Linked DNA regions of Homo sapiens. The protein of the gene in region 1 purifies or fractionates together with the protein of each later gene. This does not show direct contact. Each region holds a gene or a part of one and is shown on either strand. Other genes may lie near its edges.

Region 1 (6,856 bases):
ACTTGACTGTCCCTACCGAAGACAAGTCTCTGGCTGTGCCCAGCTTGATATCCAGGGCAGGGAACTCTGTGCCTGTGTCCAGTTGGGATGTGTTTGGTGTGGCTAAATTGATAGCCAAGCTAGGTCTGTTGGTGGCCATTGTGGCTAAATGTCTGGCTGCGTCTGTCCTTGTGTCCATAGCAGTCAAATTCACAGTCGTGTTGGCCCTTTGGAGACGCCCCCGGGGTCTGGGGATCCCCCTGGCCCGGGGCTTGCCTTTTCCTGGAGAAGCTCTGGTAGGCATGTGGTCAGTCACTGAGACAAGGTGCCCCTGGCCCAACGAGCCTGGCTCTGCAAGGACTGGTGCACTCTGGGCTAACCGGGATTGGAAAGGTAAGGCTAGGTAGGAACTCACCAGGGGCTTCTCCGTGGCAAGCATCCTGTTGGATTTGGTCAGACCTGGGTTCCCTGGGCCCTCAGAGTGGACCCTGCCCCCTGGCACTAGGGTCACAGGTGGCGAGCCTGGCGAGGACACCCTCCCTCCTTCATGGGGAGCAGCCTTCTTTCCTGGGGTAGGCAACTCTTCCCAGTGAGAAAGTGGGCGATCCAGGGACCGTGCCTGGCTGTTCTGATGGAGAGTCAAGGAGATGGAGCTGAGCTTCCTGGGTACAAGGCTGCTGGTGGGCAGGGGGCTCAAGGAAGCCCCCAGAGCGATGCCCGTCTCCTGTGGGGGCACACTCCGGGTCCTGGCTCCAAGGCCCAGCCGGCTGGAGGTCTGTGGGATATGGCTTTGGGGGAAGGTATCCAGATGGATGGTCTTCCTGAGGACGGGGGTGAGGGGGGACCCTCCTCCAGGGAGTCTCGAGGGGCGGATAGGGCGCCCCAGCACATGGCTATGGGAGAAGGAGGTTCCCGGGCCTGGAGCTCCATGCGACTGCATCTCTGGAGGAGCAGGAGCAAAGTTGTGGTCCATCCAGGTCGTTTGTCTTTCCCTGAGGCAATCAACAGAGAGAAGAGGCCAGGCAGGGGTGAGGAGCTCAGGCCTGGAGGTCTCAGCTCTCCCCTTCCTGACCAGCAGCTGAGCATGCCGGGTCTGAAGGGGCCTGGTTCTGGGGACTGTCCAGTCCTTAGTGGAGGATGCATGTAACTTCCTCCTGTCCTCCTACGGCTCCTACCTGCTGCAGACTGATCTGTACCTCATACCTACCCCACCCCGGCCAGCCACCACACAGTGGGGTGGGCACGTCCAGTGAGCAGTCTGCCTCCAGCATGGGGCATCTCAGGCTGGGCTTACGTCTCCCTTTGCCTGGGCCTGAGTGTGGCCCCTGTCTCTGTGGACAGCTCTATGGAGGTCACATACATGTTCAGGGACTCCAGAGGAGGGCAGTGCTTACTGGAGACGTCTCTCCCTTTCTCTTCCAGAAAGAACCAAAGGGCTGTGGGTTCCCACCCACAGCAGCCAACATAGGAGCTCAGGTGTCCAGGTGGCAGGATGAGAGAGGACCAATTTGGCTTAGAGCCCCAGAACCAAGAAAGAGCCCTGAGCTGGCCTAGTGCTGGAGTCAGAAACAGAGCCAGCCCTGGAGAAGGTGAGGATGGGAAATGGAGAGGCAGTGAGTGTTCACAGAAGGAGCTTATCTGGTGAACAAGCCATGGTCCCCGCCCTTGAAGAGGCTGCCATGCCCAGGGATGCCAGGCAAGGAAGTAGGCAGGGCTCCACCAAGCTAAGCATTAGGGGTAGAAAGGCGGGAGGCTAGACCTGAGCTGGGGCTGTTCCTACAGAAGGCCCAAAGGTGAGAAAGTGTGGCATCTTTCTGAAAATCCAACATGGGGCTCCTAGGCTGTATGTAGCAGGGAGGGGAGAGCCAAGGCTGCAGGTGAGCTGGGGTCCAGGCCAGGCTACAGCAAAGTTTAGGCCAGGGAATGTGACCCATTCCGATCTGTAGGTGGGAACGGCCACTCGGGCAGTGTGACAGAGGGATCAGATGGGAACAGAATTGAAGCCAGGATCCCATGAGGACATAGTTGAAACTCTCTGCTCCGTGGGCTGTGCAAGGGGCAGAGCTAGGGCTGGGGCTGGAGGAGGCTGCATTGCACAGGGGTAGAAGTGGCGGGACTGCCCAGGGTAGGGAGTGGGCACAAAGAGGTGTCGAGGATGAAGCTCAGGACTCTGGCTGTGGTCTTAGTAGATGGGCCACTCCCTGCTACTCTGGACTCCAAGTAACTCACCCTCTAGAAAAAAGTTGGTTTGGTTGCTTTTAACACAGCAGGCTGGGACCTGCAGCTGGGGGACAAGGCCAGGGCTGGTGGGAGGAGTCAGTTCCAGAGGGCTCATGGGGAGGGGAGTGATCATGTAGCCAGGTCCTTGAGGTCTGCAGCAGGGACGGGGAAGGCAGGGCACCGGACAGGGAAGGCATCACCCCTCACAATGGTGCCCCCAGCCCCTCATCCCTCTCCAGCCATATATTTGTATCCAAGACTGTCCTGGCCTCCAACCCTTTCCCACCTGGCCTATCACTGCAGCCCTGAACTTCTGCCCCCTCCTGCACAGCCACATCCACTTGGGCACACACGTTTACCCTGCACTTAGCCACAAACAGCTCCCCTCAGTGTGCACACCCACACACAGAGCAGGCCAGAGGACAGGGTGTCCGAGGGCATCACCCGACTCCCCATCCCCTCACTGCACTCCCATCTTCCATGGATTGCTTGGTCCTTCCCCACCCCACCCCCACCACCCTCCCACCCCCACAAACCCCCACACCCTTCCACCCCCCTACACACCTACCTTGATCAGAGGACAAGAAGGATCCAGTGTGTCTGGGAAGATAAGGCACACGCAGGCCCCTCACCTCCCCTGCACTCAGAGTCTGGCCATGGTGGCCAGCTTAGGGGCCTTGTCCCTCTGGTCCCCTCCTCAGCTCCTGCTCAGCCTCCAGGCCACAGTCCCCAGGCACAGGGCCCAGCCCTCTGCTCACTGTCCCACCAGCTACATCCCCGGAGACCGTGCTGGGCTGGGCTCTGGTGCAGGGAGGGGCTGGCTTCCTAGGAGTGGGCGGCTGTGAATGGCTGCTCTGAGCCTCTGGAATCCTGAAGAGCCATGGGAGGCTGGTAACGGCCAGGCTGGCACTCACGGCCACCTGCAGGGAGGTTCCCTGCAGCCTGCCCTCCCCAAATCTGCTCTGTCTCCCACAGACTTTGATGCCTGGGGAGTCTGCAGTAAAAACAGGGGTACTCCAAATATGGCTGCACTCTGGTAGTCCCAGCGCGAGTCTCCCTCTGGCTCTGCCTCTGTGCCCTTCATGCCCTGTTCAGCTCTGCAACCCTCAGACCATCTTGCCCACTCACCTGGTCTTTCCTCAAGGGGGCTGGAGTTCCTGGAGGCTAGAGCTCCTTCCACAACTATTCCCTGAGCCCCAGCTTGCTCCAGCTGGACCCTGTACCCAGACCCTAAGGGTGTGAAGAGGACCCCGCCCTAGGCCTGCCCCTGAGGGGACCACAAAGCCACCCAGCCTGGCTCTGGCAATGCCGACTCTCAGCAGCCCCTGGCCCTGGGGCTGGGATGGGAGCCCTCTTCTGTGTTCCCACAGCCCTCGGCTGCCTCTGTCATAGCAGTGGTGATAATAACAATGGTGCTGATAACAGCTACTATTTCCTGAGCACTTGCTCTGTGCCCGGCACCATGCCAGGGCTGGGCGGAGCTCACAGTCTGCTAGGAAGATAGGTATGTAAACAGATCCTATAGTACTGTCCTGTACGGTGATGGCAGATGTCCTCCGAGCACTCACCCTGAGTCAGGAACTAGGCTAAGCATTCTCCTGGCATCTCCTTTAATCTCCGCCTCATCACCTGCTTTTTACCGAGGAGGACATTGCAGCCCACACAACACTGTGTTGTCTGGTCTGCTCTCCTGTGTGTCTCTCTCTTTAGCGAGTGAGCTTCTGGAGCTGCGCTGGGCAATACAACTTTCAGTGATAATGGAAATGTTCTATGTCTGTGCTGTCCAGTACAGTAGCCACTAGCCACAGATGGCTACCGATCACTTAAAATGTGTCTACAGTGACCAAGGAACTGGATTTTTTAGTTTATTTTAATCTGTGGCTACCATATTAGCTCAGCTCTGTTTCGTTTGTTGTTGCTGTTGTTGTTATTAGTTTTTTTGAACAGGGTTTCACTCTGTCGCCCAGGCTGGAAGACAGTGGCGCCATCATGGCTCACTGCAGCCTCTTGGGCACAAGTGATCCTCCCACTTCTGCCTCCAGAGTAGCTGGGACCACAGGCATGCACCACCACGCCCAGCTAAGTTTTTATTTTTTGTAGAGACGGGGGTCTCCCTATGTAGCTCAGGCTGGTCTCGAACTTCTGAGCTCAAGCAATACTCCTACCTCCACCTCCCAAAGTGCTGGGATTACGGTCGTGAGCCACCATGCCTGGGTGGAAAGCTCAGTTATGAAGGTCCTGGATCTTCTTCTCTGGGCCCCAGGGTCTGGCAAAAATTGGCTTCAGTAAGTTTCTTTTTCTTGAGAGTCTCACTCTGTCACCCAGGCTGGACTGCAGTGGCGGGATCTCAGCTCACTGCAACTCCGCCTCCCGGGTTCAAGCCTCAGGATTCTCCTGCCTCAGCCTCCCAAGTAGCTGGGATTACAGGTGTGTGCCACCACGCCTGGCTAATTTTTGTATTTTTAGTAGAGACGGGGTTTCACCATGTTGGCCAGGCTGGTCTCAAACTTCTGACCTCAAGTAATGCATCTGCCTCAGCCTCCCAAAGTGCTGAGATTACATGCATGAGCCACCGTGCCCAACCGGTAAATTTCTTTAGAAAGAAATAATGAATGAATGAATGATTGAATGGTGATTGTGTGGGCCTAGCACCCATCCCTCTTCTTTTTTTTTTTTTTTTTTTGAGACAGAGTCTCGCTCTGTCACCCAGGCTGGAGTGCAGTGACGCCATCTCGACTCACTGCAAGCTCCGCCTCTCGGGTTCACACCATCACACCATTCTCCTGCCTCAGCCTCCCGAGTAGCTGGGACTACAAGCACCCGCCACCACGCCCACCTAAATTTTTTGTATTTTTAGTAGAGATGGGGTTTCGCAGTGTTAGCCAGGATGGTCTTGATCTCCTGTCCTTGTGATCCGCCTGCCTCGGCCTCCCAAAGTGCTGGGATTACAGGCATGAGCCACCGTGCCCAGCCCCTATCCCTCTTCTTATCCTTTCTCTCCCCTTACAGCTTTAGGTTCTCAAACTTGGCTGGGCTCTGGTTACCAGGGCAACGTGCTGGGATCCCAGTGGATGGGGGAGGGCAGCTATCTGGCGCTTCCATGCTTTGAGGCCCTGAGAACTGGCCTGACTTAAGGAAGAACAGAGGGTGCTGGGAAGGAGAGGCACAGCTCTGCCTGGACGGATTGGAGCAAGGGAGACTTTCCTGGGCCCAGCCCCATTGGATTACATGATCTCTGTGAGATAAGCAGCCTTGGGCTGAAATCAGTGGCCCTGGGTTCTCTCCCCACTTTGGCCAACGATTCACCAGGCAACGTCTATCAGATTAACTTGTGCTTCTGGGACTCAGTTGCCTTTTAAAATAGGGATCAGATGCCCTCATGTGGTCGGTCTCTTCTACTTCAAGATCTACAATTCCTCCATCTCGCTCCCTGCCAGGCTGTTAGGGCCTTGAGAGCAAGGCCTGAGTCATGTTCATCTCCGCATCCTCCTGCCCATCTGCCCTGCTTAGAGGCTTAGAGGACACTTCCTGCCCAGTAATTACAGGCCAAGTTTCAGCTGCCCTCTAGGGGCCCAAAGTGACAATGGCCCTCTCCTATCTATACATATGGTGCTTTCCCATCAAAGGAAAGATCCATAGGCCTGGAAGTGGCCTCAGAGAACAGAGGCCTCCACTCAACCACAAAACCATTGTGGTGGCCTCCCAGACAAGTGTCATAGGCTCTGGAGTCCTTCAAGCCTGGGTTTGTTACAACTATGTGATTTTCAAACAAGTCAATCCCCCTGAGCTCCCCTCTCATCTGTAAAATGGAGATTATATCAGTCAGAATGAGTTAAATTATGCTGCAGTAACAACCATTCCCAAATCCCAGTGGCTGATAACAACATGCTGATTTTTTTTTTTTTTTTTTTTTTTGAGACAGGGTCTCACTCTGTTGCCCAAGCTGGAGCGCAGTGGCACTATCACAGCTCACTGTAGCCTCGACCTACCCAGGCTCAGGTGATCCTCCCACCTCAGCCTCCTGAGTAGCTGGGACTACAGGCATGTGCCACCACGCCCAGCTAATATTTCTTCTTTTTTTTTTTCTTGAGATGGAGTTTTGCTCTTATTGCCCAGGATGGAGTGCAATGGCATGATCTCAGCTCACTGCAAACTCTGCCTCCCAGTTTCAAGCAATTCTCCTGCCTTAGCGTCCTAAGTAGCTGGGATTACAGGTGTGTGCCACCACACCCAACTAATTTTGTATTTTTAGTAGAGGCAGGGTTTCACCATGTTGATTAGGCTGGTCTCAAACTTCTGACCTCAAGTGATCCACCCTTCTCAGCCTCCCAAAGTGCTGGGATTACAGGCGTGAGCTGCGTCCAGCCTAATTTTTCTAATTTTTGTAGAGACAGGGTTTTGCCATGTTGCCCAGGCTGGTCTAAAACCCCTGGCCTCAAGCGATCCTCCTACTTCAGCCTCCCAAAGTACTGGGATTATAGGCCTGAGCCACCACACCTGGCCGCAATGATACATTGATTTCTCATCCATGTCTCATGTCCACAGTAATTTGGGTCCACTAAGGCTCTGCTCTGTGCCCTCTTCCCTCTGGGACCCAGGCTGCCTTCTAGTGCATTGCTAGTCATGTGGCAGAGGGAAGGAGGGAGTGACAAATTGT
Region 2 (7,026 bases), on another chromosome or scaffold:
TTATTTTTTAAAAGATGAATTTAGGAGAGAATATTTAGATAACATATTAATTTTCTTGCTAAACAAGGCTTAGTATGGCAGTTGCTCAGGCCATTCAAACTATTTTGGCTATATGTTACTACTTTTTAGGGGTTAAGAATATTTGCCACTCAAGCTGAGAAGGGGTAGCAACCTGTCTTCCAAGTGGATCCTTTCTGGTTTATCAATTGTTATTTTAATGTTTCTCAAGCCAAGTTCAAAATGGGACTCTAGGTATTCTAGCTATTCTAGCTCAGATAGGAAGCACTTCTTGCACTCTCAGTAAAAATGTTACATTAGTCTTGACCTTTTTGGTTTTTATCTTGTTATTATATGCTATTATATGCTGTTTCTTTTTGTAGGGATGGTCTTTTAGTAAGAACAAAAACTGAAGATATGGTATCTCAGCTTCATACTAACCTCTTGGGTTCCATGCTGACCTGTAAAGCTGCCATGAGGACTATGATTCAACAACAGGGAGGGTCTATTGTTAATGTAGGTGAGTCTTCACCTTTGTGAATTTATGATTATCCCATAATACCATACCATAAAAATATTTAATCCACGAATTTGTGATTTATTGTGAAACATGAATGAAATTTATATTATCTGTGGAAAAAAGGATTTAATTAATTGATTAATGAGTAAAATAAGAATCACACATTCACATCCCTATAGGAGTCAGGCAGGTGTTAAATGAGTGACACCACTGAGTACTAGAAAAATGACAGTACCAGCCATGTGATAAATGATATCCAGCTTCATTGTCCAGAGCCCATATGGAATGGTGGAGGCCACCACTTAGATTCAGTAGATTGTTGCCGTGCAAGAATGTGGTCCCAGTTTTGCCAGCAATTTTGATTTTTCAAGAGAAATTGGATCATTCTGATTTTTATGTGAATTTTTTTTTTTTTAAATAGAGACGAGGTCACACTATGTGGCCTAGGCTGGTCTTTAACTCATGGGCTCAAGTGATCCTCCCGAAGTGCTGGGATTATAGAGGTGAGCCACGTGCCCAGCCAGGAACCTGATTTTTAAAACATGGACAAGGAATTAAAGTAGACAGTGGTGGCTAAATAATATTGTCTACAGCAGTTTCATGGGTTACTGTTAAATCTTGTGTAGAGGTTTAAAGGAAGATAAAATTTCTCTGTTTTTAAGAATGGATGTAAGTAACCCCTAGTTTTCAGTTCATCTAACCCACAGGGCAGATAAGCTGTGGAGTATATGCCTGTAGAACTTAAAATGCAAAATGACTTGAAATTTTATTTCAGTTTGGTAATTTGGAAATAATAGTATACCATCTGCTTTTTATTTTCAAATGGTAATACCTTAAAAGGCCACAGAAGGGAGATGCTGCTCCATAAAAGTAAGTGACCCTGTTCTTTTAAATGTAGGAAATGGTTTTTCAAGCCAGAATTTAGAGTTTTTCTGTTTTGAAAGTGAGAAAAGGAAAGAATACTATGCTAATAAACTAAGGGGACATGAGAGCATTTTGGACATTTACTCTTAAAAATTTAAGGGATCCGTTTTCTTATGTAAGAGATTAGTCAATGAGTCAACCTTTGCCTTTTAACACAGCCAGATAAGGACTTTGGATACTTACAAGCAGGCAAACAGGCCTGTATCTGTCACCTGATAACCTGAGGTATATTTGTTTAACTCTAAAATCTTCTTTTTTTTAGGTGTATTTAAAAAACCCATTAGTCCTCCTTATGCATGCAAAACTTTTAGAATTGAGCTAAAAGTAAATAATAGATAGTAAATTGAGAATCTTACTACAGGAAGGACTACTTTAAACTGCCAGACACTTCATTGGTATTTCAGAAATTACCACTTTTTGACCTGATGAACAGTAGTGCGTGGCACGAATCAAAGCTGCTAAAGCAGCTTGTGTTTTTTTTTCTTTTAAAAGCCACTCATATTTAGCAGTTGGGGGTTGTATACTAACTTTAGTGACACTACTGTTAATAGGTTCTGATAACCCGCTACCATCGGACCAGCCCTGTTTTGGTATTTTTTTCGTGCATGTATTTTTCTTTTTTTGTGTCTCTGTATTTTTCTTTCTGATAAACACCCCTCTATCCATATGCATTTCTTCAGTCTGATGTCTGTTCTCTCTGTGTACTTCACAGTTCTCTTCCTTTGTTATTAATTGGCCTACAATATATAATGTAGATAAATATTCTAATACTGAACTTGTTGATTCTAATAGAGAAATGTTTGGAATGTTTTCTTTTTTTAAAATTACTTTAAAAAAATTTTGTGAGGTCCTTGATTAATTTTTGTATCATAAGTACAGGTCAGTGGTGCAGAAAATTACTTCCCCACTTCTGTTTTGCAAGAGTTTATTTGCATATAGTTGATATTTGAATTAAAAATTATTATTACATATTCATTAGATGTGGTCACTCAAGAATCTTCAGTAGGCAGTACAGTTTACAATATATCACTGAATGTAATGAAATTGCACTTTTACAAAAAGTGTATAATTGAAGCTTTGCCAATTTAGATTGACAGTACAAGCATGTCTCGCAGATATTGTAGCTTTGGTTCTGCTCCACCGGAATAAAGCGAATATGTCAAGAATGTAAGTCACACAAATTGAATTGCTGCAATCTCATGATAAAACAAATGGGTGAGGAGTTGCTTCTTATGTATGGATAAACAAAGTTGTTTCTCAAGATGGAATCTACTTGTGAAGATGTGAATACTGTTGAAATGACAAAGGATTTAGAATATCCTATAAACTTAGTTGATAAAGCAATAGCAGGGATTGAGAGGAGAGGCTCCAATTTTTAAAGTTCTACTTGGATAAAATGCTATCAAAGAGCATCACATGCTGCAGAGAAATCTTTCATGAAATGAAGAGTCAATCAATGTGGCAAATTTTGTCTTATCCAATTGTTTAGTTTCTCAGTGCATGTAAAAGTTATATTATGGTCTATTAAGTATGCAGTAGCATTATATCTAAAAAAAATGTAAATACTTTGTTGCTAAAAAAATACTTTATTGCTAAAAAATGCTAATGATCATCTGAGCTTCTGGCAAGTCATAATCTTTGCTGGCGGAGGGTCTTGCCTTGATGTTTATGGCTGCTGACTGATAATAGTGGCTGTGGCAATTTCTTTATTTTTTTTATTTTTTTATTTTATTATTGTTATACTTTAAGTTTTAGGGTACCGTGCACAATGTGCAGGTTAGTTACATATGTATACATGTGCCATGCTGGTGTGCTGCACCCACTAACTCGTCATCTAGCGTTAGGTATATCTCCCAATGCTATCCCTCCCCGCTTCCCCCACCCCACAACAGTCCCCAGAGCGTGATGTTCCCCTTCCTGTGTCCATGTGTTCTCATTGTTCAGTTCCCACCTATGAGTGAGAACATGCGGTGTTTGGTTTTTTGTCCTTGCGATAGTTTACTGAGAATGATTTCCAATTTCATTCATGTCCCTACAAAGGACATGAACTCATCATTTTTTATGGCTGCTTAGTATTCCATGGTGTATATGTGCCACATTTTCTTAATCCAGTCTGTCATTGTTGCACATTTGATTTGGTTCCAAGTCTTAGAATAAGACAAAATTTGCCACATTGATTGACTCTTCATTTCGTGAGAGATTTCTCTGCAGCATGTGATGCTGTTTGATAGCATTTTATGCAAGTAGATCTTTAAAAATTGGAGCCACTCCTCTCAATCCCTGCTATTGCTTTATCAACTAAGTTTATAGGATATTCTAAATCCTTTGTCATTTCTTTCAACAGTATTCACATCTTCACAAGGAAGAGATTCCATCTTGAGAAACAACTTTGTTTATCCATACATAAGAAGCAACTCCTCACCCATTTGTTTTATCATAAGATTGCAGCAATTCAGTCACATCTTCAGGCTCCACTTGTAATTCTGCTCCACTGAAGTCTTGAACCCCACAAAGTCATCCATGAGGGTTAAAATAACTTCTTTCAAACTTCTGTTAATGTTGGTATTTTGACCTGCCATGAATCACAAATGTTCTGAATGGCATATAGAACGGTGAATCCTTTCCAGAAGGCTTTTAATTTACTTTGCCCAGATTCCTAAGAGGAATTACTATTTATGACTGCTATAGACTTATAAAATGTTTCTTAAATAAGACTTGAAAGTCAGAATTATCCCTTGATCCATGAGCTGAAGAAAGGATATTGTGTTAACAGGCACGAAAACAACATTAATCTCCTTGTACATATCCATCAGAGCTCTTTGGTGACCAGATGCATTGTCAGTGAGCAGTAATATTTTGTTTGTGGCACCCCAACAGCAGTAAACATCAAGAATCACTGATCACAGATCATTATAACAGATGTAATAATAATGAAAAAATTTAAGATGGTATGAAAATTACCAAAATGTGACAAAGAGACACAGAGTGAGCACTGCTCACAGTGAGCCATGGTGTTGGAAAAGTGCTAATAGAATTGCTTGTTGCAAGGTTGCTACAAGCCTTCAATTTGTTAAAAAAAAAAAAAAAAAATGCAATATCTGCAAAGCACAATAAAGCAGAACAATAAAATGAGTTATGCATGTAATTCAATTTTAGTGAGATTTAGCTTCAAATGAACTAGTTTTTAGGGTGAAAACGAGAGCTTTCTGCCTTATGTCTGTGTTGTAGAATCATAAAATTAGTCAGCTTTTGTCTGACTTTTTCTGGCTTTAACCTCTACCTGCTGGAAGCCTTTATAAATACCACAGAATTTTCATCATATCTGACCTACTCAGAGATTAGAGTGCATCCCCTTCACGTAGTGAATCAATTCGCAAGCACCTGCATTGGCAGTTTTGTATCAGCTGCTTTCAGATGCTATTTTCTGTATGTATCTGGAGCAGACTTGGACTCTTAAATCTTCCGTAAATGACTGATGACAATGGTTAGAATTTCTAATTTTAACAAAGGACAAGGTGAAGTGGGTTTTACCTTTTTGTTTACTATAAATTATCTAAATTTTCAAGTAACCCCATTAATTGAATTTAATACGCTTTTTTTTTTTTTTTTTTTTTTTTTGTCCTAGGAAGCATTGTTGGCTTAAAAGGCAACTCTGGCCAGTCCGTTTACAGTGCCAGTAAAGGAGGATTAGTTGGATTTTCACGTGCTCTTGCTAAAGAGGTAGCAAGAAAGAAAATTAGAGTGAATGTAGTTGCACCAGGTTAGTGAAAACTTTATTAAAATAACTTGATTATGATTATTGTTTTATAGGGAAGCCATTATTTGGAACATTAGTAATTGACATCTGGGTAGAATAGTTTGTAAAATGATTGTGAAAAGAATCAAATAATGAACTGGGGGACTCAAAAAAATTTTTTGTACCTCATATTCTATATAAAGTCTATGTGTTAGCCTGTTTGCATTGCTCTAAAGGACTGTCTGAGGTAATTCATAAAAAAAAGAGGCTTATTTGGCTCTCGGGCCTGCAGGCTGTACAAGCATGACACCAACATCTGCTCAGCTTCTGGTGAGGCCCAGGAAACTTTTTTTCAGTCATGGCGGAAGGTAAAGAGGTAGCAGCCAAGTCATATGGGGATAGCAGGAGCAAGAGAGAGAGGAGGTGGCAGGCTCTAAACAACCAGCTCTGGCATGAACTAACAGTGAGAACTCATTATTTACCATGTGGAGGGCACCAAGCTATTCATGAGGAATCCGCCTCCATGACCCAAACACCTCCCGCTAGGCCCACCTCCAACATTGGGAATCACATTTCAACATGAGATTTGGAGGGGACAGACATCCAAACCATAAGAGTCTTTATTTTTAAATTTTGCACTAGTGGAATAACTTAAGGTGGAGAGGGTCTTAGAAATAATTTTTTCCAGTCATTTTTGTAGATTAGAAAACTGTACCTGGGATTCAGAGTGACTTGCCTAAGGTTACACAGCTAGTTTATGGAAGAACTGTTACTAAAAGCTTTGTCTTTTGATTTCCACCTAATGGGAGCTTAAAAATAATGTCCTACCAGGTATGGTAGCTCATGTGGGAGGCTGAGGCAGGAGTATTGTGAGGCCAGGAGTTCCAGATCAGCCTGAGCAACATAGCAAGATGCTGTCTGTACCGAAAAAAAAAAAAAAAAATTAGCTGGGTGTGGTGGTGCACACCTATAGTCCCAGCTATTTGGGAGGCTGAAGCAGGAGGATTGCTGGAGTCCAGGAGTTGGAGGTTGCAGTGAGCTATGATCATGCCATTGTACTCCAGCCTAGGTGACAGAGCGAGACCCTGTTGAGACCCTGTCTCTATAAAAATTAAAAAAAAAATTCTTTTTAGATTTTCTTTATATCATTACACAAACTTTAGATAGTTTTGTCCTTTTACTACTATGGTCTGTCTAAACTATCTGGAACCTCCCATTTTCCTAATTTTTACTTTTCCATTATTTGCCTTTCGCCAGGGTACTAGTTGATAAAATTGCCTGGATTAATGAAGAGGGTAATAAAAAGGTGCTAAAACTCAAAAATATATGATCACTAATTAGCTGGTGTGCTAGAAATTTTGATTAGGTATTTACTTGGTTTTTGAGTAACACAAGTGTTTTTATCTACCTCTGCCAGTTAGCCATGGAATCTTTGTCCTAGCCTACTGTAGGTACTTAAGAATTAATCACCTATATAAGAAAAGGCAGTTTATTTTGGTTTGCTGGTCCTTTGTAAGAAAGAGAGGGCTGAAGTAGACCTTTGCTACCTTTCCCTTTCCGGTCACTAATGGCTCCAGCTTGGACCTTACAGTTGGTGTTTTCTTTGGCACTGAAGTTGAGCCAGCAGGTATCAGGGATTTATCAAAATATCCTATTAACCCTTTTGGTCTATAGTGTGTCTTTATTTCAATTCTTTTCTTTTCTTTTTTTTTTTTCTCATAGCAACTAGCTACATTCAGACATTCTAAATCTATGAATATTTGATAAGTGACTGTGGTTCAGATACATCTATTTGCTGGGAGTAGGGAGAGAAAGAAAAAGAAAAAACAATCCAGAAGCAGCATTGTTG
Region 3 (7,026 bases), on another chromosome or scaffold:
GCAGAGACAGGGGCTGAGGGAGGGAGCGAGGGAGTGGAGGGAGAGGAGAAGGGAGGCTGCTTTTCCCCAGGGGCTGCAGCTGGAGGGCTGGAGCCAAGTAAGCACTGAAGGGGAAGCAGGGAGGGAGAGAGGGGGAAGGATGAACCAACTACCTGGAGCAGCTGGAGCTAAGAGCCGGGGGCAGAGGGGAGGAGAGGCCTGGTGAGTGGTGGGTTGATCGCTGCATCCAGTGTAAAGCTTGGGGCTGCTGGGGAGGGAGGGGCCGAGTAAGGGACTTTCCCATCTGAGTGGCTCAGGAGACCCACCCCTCTCCCCTCAGAGCAGCAGGGGACAGAGAAAAGCCATCACTTCTTTGGTCTTTGTGGCGGCTCAGCATGTGGGATGGGAAGGAGGGCAGAAAGGGCAGAGAAGGGCCCTTAGCAGGAAGCGCCACCTCAGCAGAGTAGGCCTGGCTGGGAGCTCTGGCAGAAAGGTCACAGTGAGGCTGAGGAGCGCCCAAGAGGAGAATGGCCGTAGTGCAGAAGTGCTGGCATGGATGGGTGGGGTAAGGTGCAGTGCCCCACCCTCTGCCAGGGCCCTTGGGAAAGGCAGAGCCTCCAGAGGTGGCCAGTGAGAGTAGGTGCAGGGCCAGAGCTAGTAGCCAGGAGAGGAGCGAGGGTGCTCCACAGCGACCTCAGCAGGTGGCCTGGTCTTGCCCACTCCAGGGCTCCCATCCTTCCTTTGGGCTCCGCTCTAACACTGGTGGCTCTGGAGGGAGGGTGGGACCCATCCTTTTTCAAAACCTTTCCTGAAGACCACAGGGGAGCTAGCCTTGCAGGCTAGGGAGCAAGAGTGGCAACAGGCCAAGGCGAGCCCTTACCAATTGGGAATCCCACTCCTCCTGCTGCTGCCAGCTAAAGGGCAGGACAGTCCCTGAAGACAGTTCAGCTTGTTCCTCCCCACCTGAGGCAGAAGGGGTTTTGAGGCAGGCCAGAGCCCTCCAGGGACATGAAAGCAGGAGATGGGGGGGGGCATATGGAGGGGTGTCCCCTCCTGCTCTTTTTTTCAGGGCTGGGGATAGTCAGGGGACAATCAGCCCAGAGTCCGAAAGCCAGCAAGTTGTAGCAACCTCCACCCCTAACGCCAAACTAACAAACAAAACAGGGGAAATGAAAAAAAAGGGTGGTGGGGAAGACAAACCAAAACAGAATCCCCTGACCTCCTGCCCAGGGCAGAGGGTCCAGCCAGTAGCAGGGGCTGGGGACCAGGGCTGGAGGGTCTAGCTGGGCCGGCACTGCACCTGGCCCTCAGAGCTGTCCTCATCATCAGAGGCCCCGGCACCCCCACTGCTCAGGCCCGTGATCCGGTAGCCCATGTTGAGCAGCATCACCTCCAACGGGTCTGCATTCATGCGCCGCTGGTTGGCCTGTGAAGCACCCTCCATATCTTCCACGACTCGGCCTGTGAGGTCTTCACTCTGTGGTGGAGAAAGGGGTGACACACGTGGGGCTCAGGGAGGGAGAGGCACCAGGGTACACGTATAGGGGAGGGGGAGGGAAATACACAGACTAAACTATCTATAGGGGGAGGTACACATACATGCCAGGAGGTGTATATGGTGGAGGGGAACACACAACCTTGGCTACATATTGTTGGGGGTGCTCACGCTGGAATATATATGGGAGATACGCCACCTCAGGATATACAGGCAGGTCATAACATGCTGGGATATACGTGGGGGACAGTACACACCAGGATATGTTGGACACACATACTGGGATACCTGGGACAAGGGGCAGATACAACTTCCCCACCCCATTCTGTTTTGTTGCCACAACTCTTGCTTCATCTTTCTTTCTCCTCTCCTCTCAATGGGGAAGCCTATAGGGGTCCTCTCTTTAAAAGTCACAGCAAATTATCTTGGGAATCAGACATACCACTTGACTTTTGTTTTGCCAGCTGGGAAGAGGGAAGCAGTAGGGCAGAGGGGAAGGGGAGGCACCAAGCCAGCTTCCCTGGCTACCCACCCTGGGAGTGGAGGGGACTCCACTGTCCTAAGTGTCCTTGTGGGCTGGACACTTCACAGGCATCTCTTCTTTACTTCTCACCACAACCTTTCAAGGTGGTGCTGTCATTCCCATTCCCAATGTACAGATGATTAAAAGCCTGGGTCAGAGATGGTGAAGTCTCTCAGGCAGCGAGTGAGGAGACTGGATTCAAACTTAGGCCTACCAGATGCCAAAGCCTGCATAGTTCCCTTGTGACCAGGGCCTCTGCACAGCTTCTGGAGAATTGCTGCTGCATTTGGAGCTTCTGGAATCTGAGAACACAGCCTTGGGCCCCGGGGTAAGGCTTACTTAGCAGCTTCTAGCCTCTGGGTGGCTCATTTCTCTTCCCTGCGCTAGCAGGCTCCACTGGAGCCTTCCACAGAGTCCCTGCCCTCCTCTCTGCTTGGCTCTGCACCCTCACCTCTGGTCGGGGGTTCCAGAGCCGCACAACAGGATCGATGCCACTGGTGGCCAGGAAGCAGTAGCTGGGGTGTGGCTGCAGGCAGTTGACAATGGACTCATCCCCTTGGAGCACACGGACCAGGTTGGTGGTCTCCTTTTCCCAGATGAAGAAGGAGCCATCGTCAGAGCCACTGACGATATACTGAGCGTTGCTGGCGGGGGGGCAAAGGGCAGGGAGGTCAGGTGGGGTACTGCCCTACAGCCTCAAGTAGAGGCTGCATGGCCTAGGTAAAGGGGGAGCAAGGAAGTCTGCAGCCACTCAGTCCCCCACACGCTGGGGTGTGCACTTGACCCAGAATTCCTCCAGGTATATAGCCCTGGTCACTGTTCTCTTAAACCTAGGGCCAGCGACTACCTGGATTTCTCCAAGACAGTCTCCCCTATAGTTCATTATTACCTCCTTGGGCCAGGATCATCTTACATCATCTCTCGGGTCTCCAAAATACCCTGTTTTAAGCCTCCCCTGAGCAGTTCCAGGCTTCTGGCATCCAGACTCCCCCTGCCCCTCACACACCACTGACATTTAGAGGGCATCTTGATGGATTCTTTTTTTTTCTTAGAGACAGGGTCTCATTCTGTCACCCAAGCTGGAGTACAGTGGCATGATCATGGCTCACTGTGGCCTTAACTGGTCCTCCAATGTCAACCTCCTGAATAGCTGGGACTACAGGTGCACGTCACCACACCCAGATAATTTAAAACATTTTTTGTAGAGATGGGGGTCTATGCTGTCCAGGCTGGTCTCAAACTCCTGGGCTCAAGCGATCCTCCTGCTTCAGCCTCCCCAAGTGCTGGGATTACGGGCATGAGCCACTGTGCCTGGCCTATGGAGAGATTCTTGATTCATGTTCATGTGTCTCACCTACCCAAAGAAAGTACATCTACAAATGAGGGGTGGGGATGATGGTGTCTGAAACACAGAGTTTGTCCCTTAGTACACAGGGCACAGTTTTGAGCACAAAACAGATGTGCCAAGATTCCCAGCCTTGGAGGGCTGCTGCCTCATACTCTCAAGCAGAGGGAGGTTCCTTGAATGCAGATAAAGAAACCAAGCTCTGGCACATGCAGACAGAGGGAGAAGGAGGTGGGGGATGAAGGAGTAGTTCAGGCACTGCGCTGGAGGCTCTACTTGGGTTATCTTATTAGTCCTTGTTATGGCCTCATAAATGGGCATGGCAGGTTGGTCATTTCATAGATTAAAAAACTTTAGAGGCTGACAAAGGTGAAGCCATTTGCCCAAGGGTACAGAGGCAGAGCAGGGATTTGAGATTCTTCTCTGAAACCATTATGCCCCAACACTCCCCACTCAACCTCCCGCTGCCAACTGGGCTGCACCCTCCTCTTCAGGGCCTCGGACCTGCCAAAGAAATTGGCCTCTTTGATATCCGTGGTGGTGTTGCAGTGGCCGCAGTAGCGGAACTGATAGTCGTAGCTTCGCTCCCGCAGCACCATTTCATCCTCTGAGATGGAGTCCTTGCGGCTCGTGCTGCGGAGGCGGACTGGGGCGCCGCCACCAGGTCCCTTCTTCTCCTCTGGGGGCAGAGATCCAGAAAAGGTAAGCGCCTTGTTCCTTTCTCTCCTTCCCTATTTTCCCCCACCTATGGCTCTGTTTTCAGTCCAAAGTCTGACAACATAGAGCTACCTGCCTCCACCCTTATCCTGGAAAACTGGGGAAAGGTTGTGAGGAAGATGCATCTTTGGATCTAGCCCCTGAGGATGTTCAAGAGGAGACCTTTGATGCCAGGAGGGCCCTGGTTCAGGTCCCTAAATGAGGGCCTGAAAGCCCCAAAGATGCAGAGACTCAAAGTCTGTTTCTGTGGAGGTAAGAGGCAGGGGAGGGTAGAGTGAGGCACTAGCAAAGAGAGAATGGATGACTTTTTTTTTTTTTTTTGAGATGGTCACGCAGGCTGGAGTGCAGTGGCGTGATCTCGGCTCACTGCAACCTCCACCTCCAAGGTTCAAGCGATTCTCCTGCCTCAGCCTCCTGAGTAACTGGGACTACCAGGCACGTGCCACCACGCCCAGCTAATTTTTGTATTTTTAGTAGAGACGGGGTTTCGCCACATTGGCCAGGCTGGTCTCAAACTCCTGACCTCAGGTGATCCACCTGCCTTGGCCTCCCAAAGTGCTGGGATTACAGGCATGAGCCACCGAGCCCAGCCTGGGTGACTTTTATAAACAGATTCATGGCACTTAGGGCAGTAAGGACCATGCCCTTACCCTCTGGAAGACAAGTTATTAGGGTCCCAAATGAGAGTCACTGATCAGTTAAGTGACAGGTAAAGTCACACAAGTTTTCTCAGTTCCTTAAAAGTGACTCACTCATACCTGCTTCAGGGCCTTGGAGCATGCTGGTTCATATGCCAGGAGCTCTGCATCTCCCACAGCTACATTTTGTTGTTGTTGTTGTTTGAGACAGGATTTTGCTCTGTCACCCAGGCTGGAGTGCAGTGGTGTGATCATGGCTCACTGTAGCCTTGACCTCCTGGGCTCAAGTGATCCTCCTGCCTCAGCTGCCCGAGGAGCTGGGACTACAGGTGTGTGCCACCACCCCTGGCTAATTTTTTTTAATTTTTCTTTTGTTGAGATGGGATCTTGCTATGTTGTCCTAGCTGATATTGAACTCCTGGGCTCAAGCTATTTTCCCACATCAGCCTCCCAAAGTGCTGGGATTATAAGCGTGAGCCACCGCGCTAGGCCACACAGCTATATTTTGTATCTAGTTAATGCTTCCTTTGGATCCTTTAGATCTTAGTTTAAATGTTTCTTCCTGAAGAACCCCAGAATGCCATCAAGCCCACCCCCTCCCAGCATGCACACCATTCAGGTCCCCATGGCACTTGTCATACTTTTTTGTTTCTCCTTTATCACTTGGTTCCTTCACTAGACTGTAAATGCCATAAACACAGAAATTCCACGTGACTTAGTCACAGCTCTATTCCCAGGACCCAGCACAGTGCCTGGCACATGGCAGGTGTCTGATAACTATTCATTAAACAAATTAATTTATCACGTGGTTGGTAAACTGCAAAGGAGAGAGGTGAAGATCCATGTCTGCCTCCTATGAGCTCACCGTTCACGTTTACAGACCACACTCCGATGGCCCAGTTCATTCTCCAGCACACTGAGGGGAGCTGGGCAGGGCTTCGTGCTCTTTGTGCAGGTAGGTAGAGAGGCTGTGCTTTCTTCAAGGCCACACAGTCAGGTGGTGGAGCTGCATTTGGAACCGAGGCCCCACATTCCAAGCCTGAGGCATTTCTACTGCTCTGCGCTATTGTCTCTGCTGCACTTGTACACTCGGAACAAACACAATGACCAGCTTCTGCCTCTCAGATGCCCAAGTGGAACCACCAGGGCCCTGTCTAAGCAGGTGTGAATGCCTAGCGGGAGCCTGACTGAGCTCAGCTTCCTCCTATCCTGGGCACCAGGCACTCCCCCAGGTGCTTTAAACATGCCATTTAAACATGCTGATCCTCAATAGAAACGCTCAGTGGGAGGTGCTGGCATGCCTCCTTTTCAGACCAGGAAACACTCTGAGAGAGACACCAAGTAACTGCCCCAAAGTTGCATGGTTTCTGAATCAACATCTGAACCCAGGCCTCTCCAATCCCAGAACCATGACCTCTCCAGAATGTCATGCAGCATCTCAAAGAGAAAGAGTAACAGCACCCCCTCCTCAGTGCCCACTCACCACCATCATTTTTAGAGAAGAGGGCAGCTGTGATGTCGCGGCCCAATGCATCACAAGCGCTGCTGTGGGCCTGCTCCGGAAATTTCCCTTTGAAGTCGTCCAGGCACTCCAGGGCTTCAGCCACATACTTGAGCTCAAAGAGGCAGCGGGCCAGGCGAAAGTGTGCCTTCAGGTGGCATGGGTTTAGGGAGATGGCCTTGAGGCAGTCCCTCAGGGCATCATAGTGGTCACCATCCCTGGGAAGGCAGGGAAGAGCGGCTTGGAGGTGGAGCCACGTGGCAAGCAAGGGGTCCCCATTCAGTCTCCTCTGCTTCCTGTGGCCACCCCAGCCCACCACTGACAGATCTCATGGCAAGGGGACTTGAGGACGAAGAGAATCCTGGCTCAGCCCAGGCCTCCCCCATCAGGAGACAGAGTATGGTTAAGGAGCAAGCCAGGAAACCCTGAGGTCTTGAGGGTGGCAAAAGCTGGTGTCAGGCTGCCCTCTGCTGGGCACAGAGTGCAACTGCACACTGGCTCACCCCAGGCACCCGCAGCTCTGCAGCAGAAGGCCTGGCATCTTGCCCACCACAGGCTCCCCAAGCCCTCCTTCTCTCTTCCCCCATCCACCTTCTCAAATCACCCCCGGCTGGCCTTCAAAGCCACATCCAAGGCAGGGGGCCCTCAAGGACAGTTCTGTGGTCTGGGGAAGCCAGAAGTGTCAGGCTGGGGACGCAGGGTCTGACCAGCAGGCAGCAAGCCCTCAGCCAGACCCCCCCCTGTCCTGGCTGACTGATCCACAGCAGCTGTGGCCTCTACCTCCTGGGGCTGGAGGATGGGGCCTGACAGTCTGGCAGAGTCAGCTCT

Evidence for each region. The genes of interacting proteins can lie anywhere in the genome.
Region 2: the proteins of SEPTIN3 (region 1) and CBR4 purify together in Homo sapiens (affinity purification with mass spectrometry; 4 studies listed by BioGRID and IntAct, with this or other methods). This does not show direct contact.
Region 3: the proteins of SEPTIN3 (region 1) and WDTC1 purify together in Homo sapiens (co-immunoprecipitation; 3 studies listed by BioGRID and IntAct, with this or other methods). This does not show direct contact.

What each region holds. Positions count from the first base shown.
Region 1 is NC_000022.11:41,965,589-41,972,444, reverse strand, and holds the start of SEPTIN3 (neuronal-specific septin-3), read right to left. Parts: upstream 3,003-6,856; 5' UTR 2,768-3,002; intron 972-2,767; 5' UTR 953-971; coding exon 1-952. UniProt on the Homo sapiens protein: Filament-forming cytoskeletal GTPase. May play a role in cytokinesis.
Region 2 is NC_000004.12:169,000,246-169,007,271, reverse strand, and holds part of CBR4 (3-oxoacyl-[acyl-carrier-protein] reductase), read left to right. Parts: intron 1-380; coding exon 381-517; intron 518-1,357; coding exon of another isoform or gene 1,358-1,387; intron 1,388-5,066; coding exon 5,067-5,201; intron 5,202-7,026. UniProt on the Homo sapiens protein: Component of the heterotetramer complex KAR (3-ketoacyl-[acyl carrier protein] reductase or 3-ketoacyl-[ACP] reductase) that forms part of the mitochondrial fatty acid synthase (mtFAS).
Region 3 is NC_000001.11:27,300,616-27,307,641, reverse strand, and holds part of WDTC1 (WD and tetratricopeptide repeats protein 1), read right to left. Parts: intron 6,417-7,026; coding exon 6,181-6,416; intron 5,704-6,180; coding exon of another isoform or gene 5,417-5,703; exon of another isoform or gene 5,143-5,416; intron 4,022-5,142; coding exon 3,847-4,021; intron 2,642-3,846; coding exon 2,449-2,641; intron 1,457-2,448; coding exon 1,259-1,456; 3' UTR 1-1,258. UniProt on the Homo sapiens protein: May function as a substrate receptor for CUL4-DDB1 E3 ubiquitin-protein ligase complex.